Linked DNA regions of Homo sapiens: region 1 is linked to region 2. The links come from fine-mapping of genetic effects on gene expression. A gene starts in region 2. The other region holds a variant in brackets. All regions are shown on one strand. Distances are between the middles of the regions. Region 1 overlaps STAG1 (STAG1 cohesin complex component). Region 2 holds the start of NCK1-DT (NCK1 divergent transcript).

The links. PIP is the estimated chance that this variant, and not a neighbour inherited with it, causes the effect. A credible set is the group of variants that fine-mapping cannot tell apart.
Region 1: its variant is the best candidate, but not a certain one, in a credible set for the expression of NCK1-DT in skeletal muscle (GTEx, PIP 0.60).

The regions. Positions count from the first base shown.
Region 1 is chr3:136,394,414-136,399,413 of GRCh38, forward strand. It overlaps STAG1 (STAG1 cohesin complex component), which reads right to left. Exons shown (of 34, transcript NM_005862.3): 22 at 4,336-4,416. Among named protein-coding and RNA genes, the nearest start is that of PCCB, 150 kb to the left of the region's middle. The variant G/A (reference allele first, on the strand shown) is at 2,299.
Region 2 is chr3:136,859,595-136,865,121 of GRCh38, forward strand. It overlaps NCK1-DT (NCK1 divergent transcript), which reads right to left and starts at 2,469. Exons shown (of 3, transcript NR_110177.1): 1 at 2,153-2,469. NCK1 (NCK adaptor protein 1) reads left to right here and starts at 2,614. Exons shown (of 4, transcript NM_001291999.2): 1 at 2,614-2,759. RefSeq lists enhancers at 1,543-1,592, 2,153-2,212, 3,273-3,352, 3,363-3,482 and a silencer at 2,573-2,632.

The sequences.
Region 1 (5,000 bases), 470 kb before region 2:
GCTATAAATGCACATAAAACTATAAATTGTAATTAACTGAATAAAACACATAAAAGATGCTGCAGCATTCTTTCTGGCATAAAGAAAATCAGTGGGTCACACCTGTAATCCCAGCACTTTGGGAGGCTGAGGCGGGTGGACTGCTTGAGTCTAGGAGTTTGAGACTAGCCTGGGTAATATGGTGAAACCCCATCTCTACAAAAAATATAAAAAAGTAGCCAGGCGTGGCTGGGTGTGGTGGCTCACACCTGTAATCCCAGCAATTTGGGAGGCGAAGACAGGCAATCCCAGCAATTTGGGAGGCGAAGACAGGCAGATCACCTGAGGTTGGGAGTTCGAGACCAGCCTGGCCAACACGGTGAAACCCCGTCTCTACTAAACATACAAAAATTAGCCAGGCATGGTGGTAGGCACCAGTAATCCCAGCTACTTGGGATGCTGAGGCAGGAGAATCGCTTGAACCTGGGAGGCGGAGACTGCAGTGAGCCAAGATCATGCCACTGCACTCTAGCGAGACTCTGTCTCAAAAAAAAAAAAAAAAAAAAAAATGTAGCTAGGCGTGGTGGCACACACTTGTAGTCCCAGCTACTTCAGGGGCTGAGGTGGGAGGATCACCTGAGCCCAGGAGGTTGAGGCCACAGTGAGCCGTGACAGTGGGCAACCAGGGTGAGACCCTGTCTCAAAAATAAAACAAAACAAAATCAGTTCTGGTAACAAAATCTGCATTGCCAATGAAATATGTAATATGACTAATACAAAAATAAAACTATCTTTTATTAGGAGAATGTGTCAGACAAAAAAGGCAAGGAATTTCAAAATAATTCTGCTGTAAAAAGATTAAAAAATAGAAAATATTCAAAGAAGTCGATTGAAGAATAGAGATTCTCATTCCAATTATGGAATATAGTTGTAAAAAGACAAAATTTAGGCTGGGCACAGTGGCACACACCTGTAATCCCAATACTTTGGGAGGCTGAGGTGGGTGGATCACTTGAGGTCAGGAGTCCAAGACCAGCCTGGCCAACGTGGTGAAACCCAGTCTCTACTAAAAATACAAAAAACCCGGGCATGGTGGCATGCGCCTGTAATCCCAGCTACCCTGGAGGCTGAGGCAGGAGAATCACTTGAACCCGGGAGGTAGAGGTTGCAGTGAGTCAAGATTGCACCACTGCACTCCTCCAGCCTAGGTGACAGAGTGAGACTCCATCTCAATTAAAAAAAAGACAAAATTTAAATTATTAATAGATTTACAAGGAGGAATTAACTATCAATTATGCTGAATTTTTACGGAATAACATATTCTAAATTTGCTAAATGCAATAATCAATATTTAGCCAAAATGCAAGTAACTCAACAAAAATGACGTCTGTGGGAAAAACTATCTAAAACTCAATCAGAAGGGTGAGAATAAAAGCAATTGTGTAAAATCATTAAACCCTTCCTATCAAATTTTAATATATAAATTCAATCTCCTTTGACTTTACTATATTAAATAACATTTCAAAAAAAGACAAGAGGCTCGCTCTGTCACCCAGGCTGGAATGCAGTGGCAAGATCTTGGCTCACTGCAACCTCTAGCTCCCAGGTTCAAGCGATTCTCGTACTTCAGCCTCCAAGTAACTGGAATTACAGATGTGCGCCATGATGCCCAGCTAACTTTGTATTTTTAGTAGAGACAGGGTTTCATCACGTTAGCCAGGCTGTTCTGGAATTCCTGACCTCAGGTGATCCGCCCACCTTGGTCTCCCAAAGTGCTACGATTACAGGCGTGAGCCGCCAGGCCCAGTGTAACACAGTTTTTTTTTTTTTTTTTTTTTTTTGAGACAGAGTCTCGCTCTGTCGCCCAGGCGGGGGTGCAGCCACGCGATCTCTCCGCTCACTTCAAGCTCCACTTCCTGGGCTCCGGCCATTCTCCTGCCTCAGCCTCCTGAGTAGCTGGGACTACAGGCGCCTGCCACCACGCCCGGCTAATTTTTTTGTATTTTTAGTATTGACAGGGTTTCACTACTGTGTTAGCCAGGATGGTCTCGATCTCCTGACCTTGTGATCCGCCCACCTCGGCCTCCCAAAGTGTTGGGATTACAGGCGTGAGCCACCGCGCCTGGCCTTTTTTTTTTTTTTTTTTTTTTTTTTGGAGACAGTCTCGCTCTATCGCCCAGGCTGGAGTGCAGTGGCATGATCTTGGCTCACTGCAACCTCCGCCTCCCGAGTTCAAGCGATTCTTCTGCCTCAGCCTCCCAAGCAGCTGGGACTACAGGCGCCTGCCACCACACCCAGCTAATTTTTGTATTTTTAGTA[G/A]AGACAGGGTTTCACCATATTGGCCAGGCTGGTCTCGAACTCTTGACCTTGTGATCTGCCCGCCTCGGCCTCCCAAAGTGCTGGGATTACAGGCGCGAGCCACCGCACCAGGCTGTAACACAGTTTTAAAGTGGCTTTCATTACTAATAAAAGGTTAACTGTTATTTTTGTTTTTCAAGACTGAAATTATTAATAAAAGAGAAAAACCAAGAGGCTAACCAATATATTACCATTCTTCTAATGAAAAAGAATTTAAAAATCCTACTACTTTCTAAATGCAGAGATCCTCAAATTGTTACTCAGAAAGGAAAAAAAATTCTTACTCTGAAAAAATAACACTCCATATCAAGCTGTTTGTTCTATATGCAAATGCATTACTCATCTTTACTGGTTAAACAGCTTGTTTTGTTAAGAGGAGATACACAAACATACTAATATCTTTATTTGGTTCTTTATCAAATGTTTACTTCTTAGTCATGTTCAGGCCTCTCATTACATGAAATAACTGAAACATTTATATTTGTGTCAGATAATTCCAATGTGAAGTATTTTTTGTCTGATTCTCTTCATGGTTGTTTTCATGAGTGATATTTTTGCTGTGAGCTCATTTTGCTTAAGGTTTTACTTGTGGAAAATTCTTTAAGGCAAGTTCCTTCAGAAGATATTTAGATTTGATTCTGTTAGGTGGTTGGGGATTACCACCATTATAGAACACTTAATCAAAATCTCAACTTTTTTTCTTTCTTTTTTTTTTACCATCAAAATAGTATGAATTCAGGTGAAAACCTATGCAAAAGCTAAGTCATAAACTTTCATGGGAGATTTATTTTTCCCCATTTTAATCAATGACAAATTTTAAGACAGACTCTTTTCCTTATAATCCCCCAGCCCCTGAAGGAAACTGGAGTGCGTTTATTTCTAGTTCACCCCTGTGGTAAGAGCAGGTCATTAGGATCCCAAAATTATCTGGGAGATGTGGCCACCTATGAGACATTCTATCCTGGATGGACCTTGAGAAACATCCTCAAGGTAAAGCAGGCTTCAGTGCTCTTTTTGGCTTTCTTGATCTTACTTTTTTTCATTTAATCCCTAGCCCACATTTTTCTTTGTTTTGCATGGTCATGGATACATTAAAATTCAAAAAAAAAAAATTTACCCAACATTTTAAGTTGTTTTTAACTTCAAGAGGGTTGTTCACTTTGTGTCTCTAGGTATCATACTACTATCTTTCAATGATGTTATTCTTTTTTTTGAGATGGAGTTTTGCTCTTGTTGCCCAGGCTGGAGTACAATGGCGCGATCTTGGCTCACTGCAACCTCTGCCTCCTGGGTTCAAGCGATTCTCCTGCCTCAGCCTCCTCAGTAGCTGGGATTACAGGCACCCAACACCACACCCGGCTAATTTTTGTATTTTTTTTTTTTTCAGACAAGAGTCTCACTCTGTCGCTCAGGCTGGAGAGCAGTGGCGTGATCTGAGCTCACTGCAACCTCTACCTCCCGGGTTCAAGTGATTCTCCTGCTTCAGCCTCCCAAGTAGCTGGGACTACAGGTGTGCATCACCATGCCCAGCTAATTTTTGTATTCTTAGTAGAGATGGAGTTTCACCATATTGGCCAGGCTGGTCTTGAACTCCTGACCTCAAGTGATCTGCCTACCTCGGCCTCCCAAAGTGCTGGGATTATAGGCGTAAGCCACCGTGCACGGCCTCAATGTTATTCTTTTTAATAGCATGTTACCTATCAGAGCTCTTGTGTCTACTACAGTGATTTTATATAAGAAGTTTTAATCCGTGTGTGTGTGTACATATATATACACACACATAACTATGTGTCTTTTGCTTGAAGATTTTGGCTCTTCCCAAAGAGGTAAATGTATACTTACTCATAAGATAAACCAAGAACTGGTAATAGTCATATATTTTATTAAATATTACAATAATTTATATTATACAATAACTGATAATAGTAAATTATTAAATAGTTAAGCAAGGTTATTATTTCAGTAATAACCCTTCTGCCTACAGAAACTCTTACTTACTTTGGAAGGAGAGCCATCAGTAATTTTCACCAACTGCCAAAGAATCGAATAATGGGAACACTGCAGTGCTTGCACGACTATCTGTATCAAATGAAAAAAAATTTTTTTAATGAAAAATTCAAAAAAATGAGATCATCTGTTTGCACCGTGCTAAGATAATATTTATCACAGTTGTTATTTTATAGTATAGCTTCAAGTCCAAATTTTTGTATAATTAATGAGAATGTATAAAATACTTGGTTAAAAAGGACAAACCAATGTATCAATCTGGAGAATAAAGACACAACATATGGGAATAAATACAGATTGAAATAGCACTATGTTTAAACAAAAATGTAGTGTCATGAATATTTTACTTAGTCAAATTTTTAAAAGGAGACTGATGAAATTATTTTTATCCAAATTTTATAGTTGAAATAACTGAATCTAAAATATTTACCCACATTTTATAAGAAAATTTCTACTTCTTTTAAAGTATTTTAATGTGAAAACAGTCATATCAAATATACATTTATGAGTATAAAGCTTAATGAATATAAAGCAAAAATACCTGTGTAACCACCACCCACATCAAGAAATAAAACATTGCCAGCACCTCCTCCCAATATAATTATCTTTCTTCTCCCAAGGGCAACAGTTATTATGGATTATTTGGGAATTGGTAT
Region 2 (5,527 bases):
TTTCAAAGTTATGTAGGTTGGGAGGTCCAAAAGAGGGTGCCAGCATGGTCAGTTTTGGGTGAGGGCTCTCTCTCTGGCTTGCAGATGTCTGTCTGCTTGCTGTGTTCTCAAATGGAGAGAGCTCTCTGGTGCCACTTTCTATAAAGACATTAATCTTATGGGATTAGGGCCCCACCCTTATGACCTAATTTAATTTTTATTACCTCCCTAAAGGCCTAGCTCCAACTAGAGATGGTCCCTGACTTAAGATTTTTTTGACTTTATGATGGTCCAAAAGCCATATGCACTCTAGAATCTGTACTTTGAGTACCCATAAAACCATCCAGTTTTTCATTCAGTATTTAGTAGATTACATGAAATACTCAATACTTTATTAAAAAATAAGCTTTGTATTAGATGATTTTGCCTAACTGAAAGCTAATGTAAGTATTCTGAGCATGTTTTAGGTAGGCTACTCTAAGCTATGATGTTTGGTAGGTTAGAAGCATTAAATGCATTTCTGACTTAAGATCTTTTCAACTTAAGGTATTTTCAGTTTATGGTGGGTTTATTGGAACATAACCCCTTTGTAAGTTAAGGAACATTTATATAGTCACATTAGGAGTGAGGGCTTCAGTATGAATTTTTGGGGGGGATGCAATTCAGTCCATACCAGTCATGATAAAATATGCAGTTATTTAAACCCTTAGAATAAACTCAAAATTCACCGCCATTATTCACTTTGGATGCTAATAACAGAATGTAGACATAGAGTAGCTGTTGCCCAGTTTCATGGTCTACTTGTCCCAGTCAACCTGAGGATAGTACAGCATAAATAGGTAAATTTGTGCTTGACCTTGTGATCCTACATATGGCAGGCTGTCTTAGTCCCTTTAGTGTTGCTAGAAAGGAATACCCAAAGCTGGATAATTTAGAAATAGAAAAGGTTTTTCGGCTTATGGTTCTGATGTCTGGAAAAGTTCAAGACTGAGCATCTGCATCTGATGGTAGCCTAAGACTGCTTCTACTCATGCCAGAAGGCAAAGGAGAGCTGGTGTGTGCAGAGATTACATGGCCAGAGAGGACGCAAAAGAAGAAAGGAAGTGCGACGTTCTTTTTAACCAGCTCTGGTGGAAATAAAGAGAACTCATTTACCCTCTCCCCAGGGAGGACATTAATCTATTCCTGAAGGAACCACCTCCATGACCCAACACTGCCCATTAGTCCCCACCTCCAACATTGGGGATCAAATTTCAACAGGAGGTTTAGGGGAACAAACATCTAAATTACAGCACAGGCCAACCACATGCATGCATTACCAATCACGTAAATAATTTTGAAGTTAAATGCAGAAAACTGCAAACTTTTGAGGCTGATATCCAGGGCCAGGATTAAAATAAAAAGTATTAATGCCTTAAACAGTATTTACTGACCATCTACCCTACTGCAAGGCCCTAGGGAGAAACTGAACAGACATGGTTACTGATTCAACGGAGTTTACAATCTAGGTAGACATACAGGCAAACCATTTCAATAGCTCGGATGGAGAAAACACCTGTGCTCCAAGGAAGGTACCTAACTGAGCAAGCTTCCCTGAGGAGCGATCCTAAACTGTGCCACAAAGATGGTTAAGAAGAGATGAGGCGGCTGGGCGTGGTGGCTCACGCCTGTAATCCCAGCACTTTGGGAGGCCGAGGCTGGCGAATCACGAGGTCAAGAGATCGAGACCATCCTGGTGAAACCCCGTCACTGCTAAAAATACAAAAACATTAGCTGGGCGTGGTGGTACATGCCTGTAATCCCAGCTACTCGGGAGGCTGAGGCAGGAGAATAGCTTGAACCCGGAGGCGGAGGTTGCAGTGAGCCGAGATCGTGCCACTGCACTCCACCCTGGCGACAGAGCGAAACTCGTTTCAAAAAAAAAAAAAAAAGAGGCAGGTTACGGCGCGGGGGCGGGGAAGGGGGCCTGCAGCACCGGCGAGGGGAAGAACCAACTTACTGATGCCTCAGCCAGTGGCTGGAGCCCTAAGAATGGACAGACCTGGCTCCGAAGGTCCTCTTCATAACACTACTGCCGCCAAGAATGTAAGCTGCCCAAGCACGAGGACACTTTTAGAGGGCCCTCAGACTCAGCTTCTTTTGGTCTGTGCCTCAAATTAAGCACATGTCTTACATTTCTCCCAGGTCCCAATTTTCAGGTCTGCTTTTCTTTGTTTTTCTTTGTCGCTCCCCGCTCCTAAGAACCTTCGGCTGGGATGACATTCTTCAGGTGCAGAAACCAGGGGGAAGCTCCCAGAGCAGTGGGGGCTGAACTCAGGACACAGTCATTTTTGCTGTTAAGTCTCTCCTGCGGCGCTGAGGAGGCAGGCTCAAAGTAACCAACCAGAGCAGCCGCAGAGGGAAAAGCTAAGACAGTTCTGGTCCGGCCCAGCGCTTCTCACCCTCTAGCTCTCTACTCTCCGCCGCGCAGCCTCCGCTCCCTCCACATCAGGCACGGCGCTTGATTGACATGAGGGCCCGCCCAATCCCAGTGCGGCAGAGACCGTTGTCGCGTCAGGGACCGGGGAAGGGGGCGACTGAACCTATCAGATTGGGTCCAGAGTGGGTTTCCTGCCCGCGCGGATCCGCCTGCCCACCGCGCGTGCCCCGCCTCTCTCCCAAGAGCTACGCGGCGGCGGCGGAGCGCAGGCCTCGTGCCGTTACGGCCATCACGGCGGCCGCAGTGGCGTCCTGGAGCCCTCCTCAGGTGAGCTGGAGCTGCCCGGCTCGGCAGCGGGAAGGTGAGACGGCCTTGTTGGCAGGCAGACACACACACACCCCCCTTCAGTCCGCTGTCCGTCCATACAGCCTGTTACTCGCTGCGTCGCTTCCTCTTCTCGCGCTGAGTTAGCCCCGGGGGCGCCGTCTGCAGGCTCGGAGCCGAGCCGGAGGGGGCGCGGAGGCTGCTCGGAGGGTCCAGACTTCTGCACCGGGATTCCGCGAGACCCTCGGGCCGTTGCCCCAGGGAGCGTGACCCCGCGGCCTCCTTGTCAGCCCCTGGAGCGCTGTGTCGGGCTGAGAGCCCGGGCGGCCGCCCGTGCGAGCCTGGGAGGTCGAGTGTGCGGCGCGCTGGTTGACTTGTCTGTTTTCTCATGAAAAAGTCCTTTTGCCAGCTGTGGCGTAATCCGAGGCCGGGAAGGTAGGGACGTGGTAGGAGGAAGGGCGCTCTCACCTCCAGCCCGAGAGGAGGGGAGGCGTCAGCCTGCGCGGTGCTGCGGGTGGACATCTTCGGGACGCGCCCTCTCCCCTCCCCCCACCCACCGGCCGTTTTCTAGTCTGGGGCTGTGACTTTAATGGTCTGGACCTGCTTCAGATTCGTACGCGAGTTGCTGGGGCTGTGAACTTTTGACTTGAGTTGTAATATGTTTGGTAAAACAAAAAACCATTTCGATAGGTTTTGTAACCTTTCTTCTGTATTAACATACAAGTTAAATTCGCCGTTAGAAGCTCAGGAAGCTGGGTTTTGTTCAGGGGTGAGGACGTAACCGTAGGAACGCTCTCGGTGTCAAACTGATGGACCCGGAGTCACCTGAAAATAATTATGCACGTTAGATTAGGTAAGAAGCCCTAGAAATTAGGAAAGAATTAGGTTAAAGAGAATTTCCTAACTCCTCTTTGGGTAGGGAGCAAAGCAGCTCAATGTCCTCCCAAAACGGGTGTTGCCAAAAGGTACTCATTTTTAAAATTTTACTTTGATAGACGTATGACAAACCAACTATAACGATTTCTTCAGCACCTGGAAACCAGTGTGCCTAGACTCTCAGCCTTCGGCGAGGTCACACAGTAAACGGAGAAATAACCTAAGAAGAAAGTTTTGTTTGGTAATTGTCAATAATATTCGTTCTTTTCTTTTTAAAACACTTAATTTTCTTGTGGGGGGTGGAGTCTGTGATATTCTTAAATAGGCATCCCATTCACAACTTGATAGTAATATGCACTGGTTGATAAATGGTGCTTTCTTTTCATCTTGACCACAAACTCTGAGACTTCTTTGGGAAAATTGTGATCTGTGGAAATTGGCTGTAATATCCATAAACATAGTTTGCAGAGTGTTCACATCTACTCAGCTGTTGGCTCATGTATTAAATTTTAAAATGTGTACTTATTTTTCTAGGCATTATCTTTTGTCCAGGTTTTGACAGTGCTTTCAGGTCCATCTAAATAAAATTTGAAACCTACGTGTAATGTTTTGTTCGATACTGAGGGAGTCCAGGCGGGGTAGCTCAAACCTGTAATCCCAGCACTTTGGGAGGCTGAGGCGGGCGGATCACGAGGTCAGGAGATTGAAACCACCCTAGCAGACACGGTGAAACCCCGTCTCTACTAAAAATACAAAAAAGTAGCCGGGCGTGGTGGCGGGCGCCTATAGTCCCAGCTACTCGGGAGGCTGAGGCAGGAGAATGGCGTGAACCCGGGAGGCGGAGCTTGCAGTGAGCCGAGATCGCGCCACTGCACTCCAGCCTGGGCGACAGAGCGAGACTCCGTCTCAAAAAAATAAATAAAATGTGTATTTATTTTTCTAGGCATTATCCTTTGTCCAGGTTTCTGCAGTGCTTTCAGGTCCATCTAAATAAAATTTGAAACCTACGTGTAATGTTGGCCGGGCTCGGTGGCTCACGCCTGTAATCCCAGCACTTTGGGAGGCCGAGGCAGGCGGATCACGAGGTCAGGAGATCGAGACCAGCCTGGCCAACACGGTGAAACCGCGTCTCTACTGAAAATACAAAAATTATCCGGGCGTGGTGGCACGCACCTGTAATCCCAGCTACTCGGGAGTCTGAGGCAGGAGAATTGCATGAACCCGGGAGTCGGAGGTTGCAGTGAGCCAAGATCGCCACTGCACTCCAGCCTGGCAACAGAGCAAGATTCCGTCACACACACACAAAAAAAAAACAGAAACAAAAAAAACCTATGTGTAATGTTTTGTTAGATACTGAGGGAGACCAGGCGGGGTAGTTCAAGCCTGTAATCCCAGCACTTGGGAGGCCAAGGCGGGAGGATAGCTGGAGGCCAGGAGTTTGAGATCAGCCTAAGCAATGTAGTGATACCCTGTCTCTAAATTAAGAAAATATAAAAAAATTTAAAAAGGAAAATAATAAAGAAAAGAGATACTTAGTGATACTTCATGGTTCTGGGTTTTTTTCTTTTCTTTTTTTTTTTTTTTTTTGAGACAGAGTCTCTGTTGCCCAGGCTGGAGTGCAGTGGCACGATCTTGGCTCACTGCAACCTCTGCCTCCCGGGTTCAATCGATTCTTGTGCCTCGGCCTCCTAAGTAGCTGGGACTACAGGTGTGTGCCACCATGCCTAGCTAATTTTTTTGTATATATATATATTTTTCTTTTTCTTTTGTTTGTTTTTTTTTTTGAGACGGAGTCTCACTCTGTTGCCCAGGCTGGAGTGCAGTGGCGGGATCTTGGCTCACTGCAACCTCTGCCTGCCGGGTTCAAGCAATTCTCTGCCTCAGCCTCCCCAGTAGCTGGGATTACAGGCGCCTGCCACCACGCCTGAC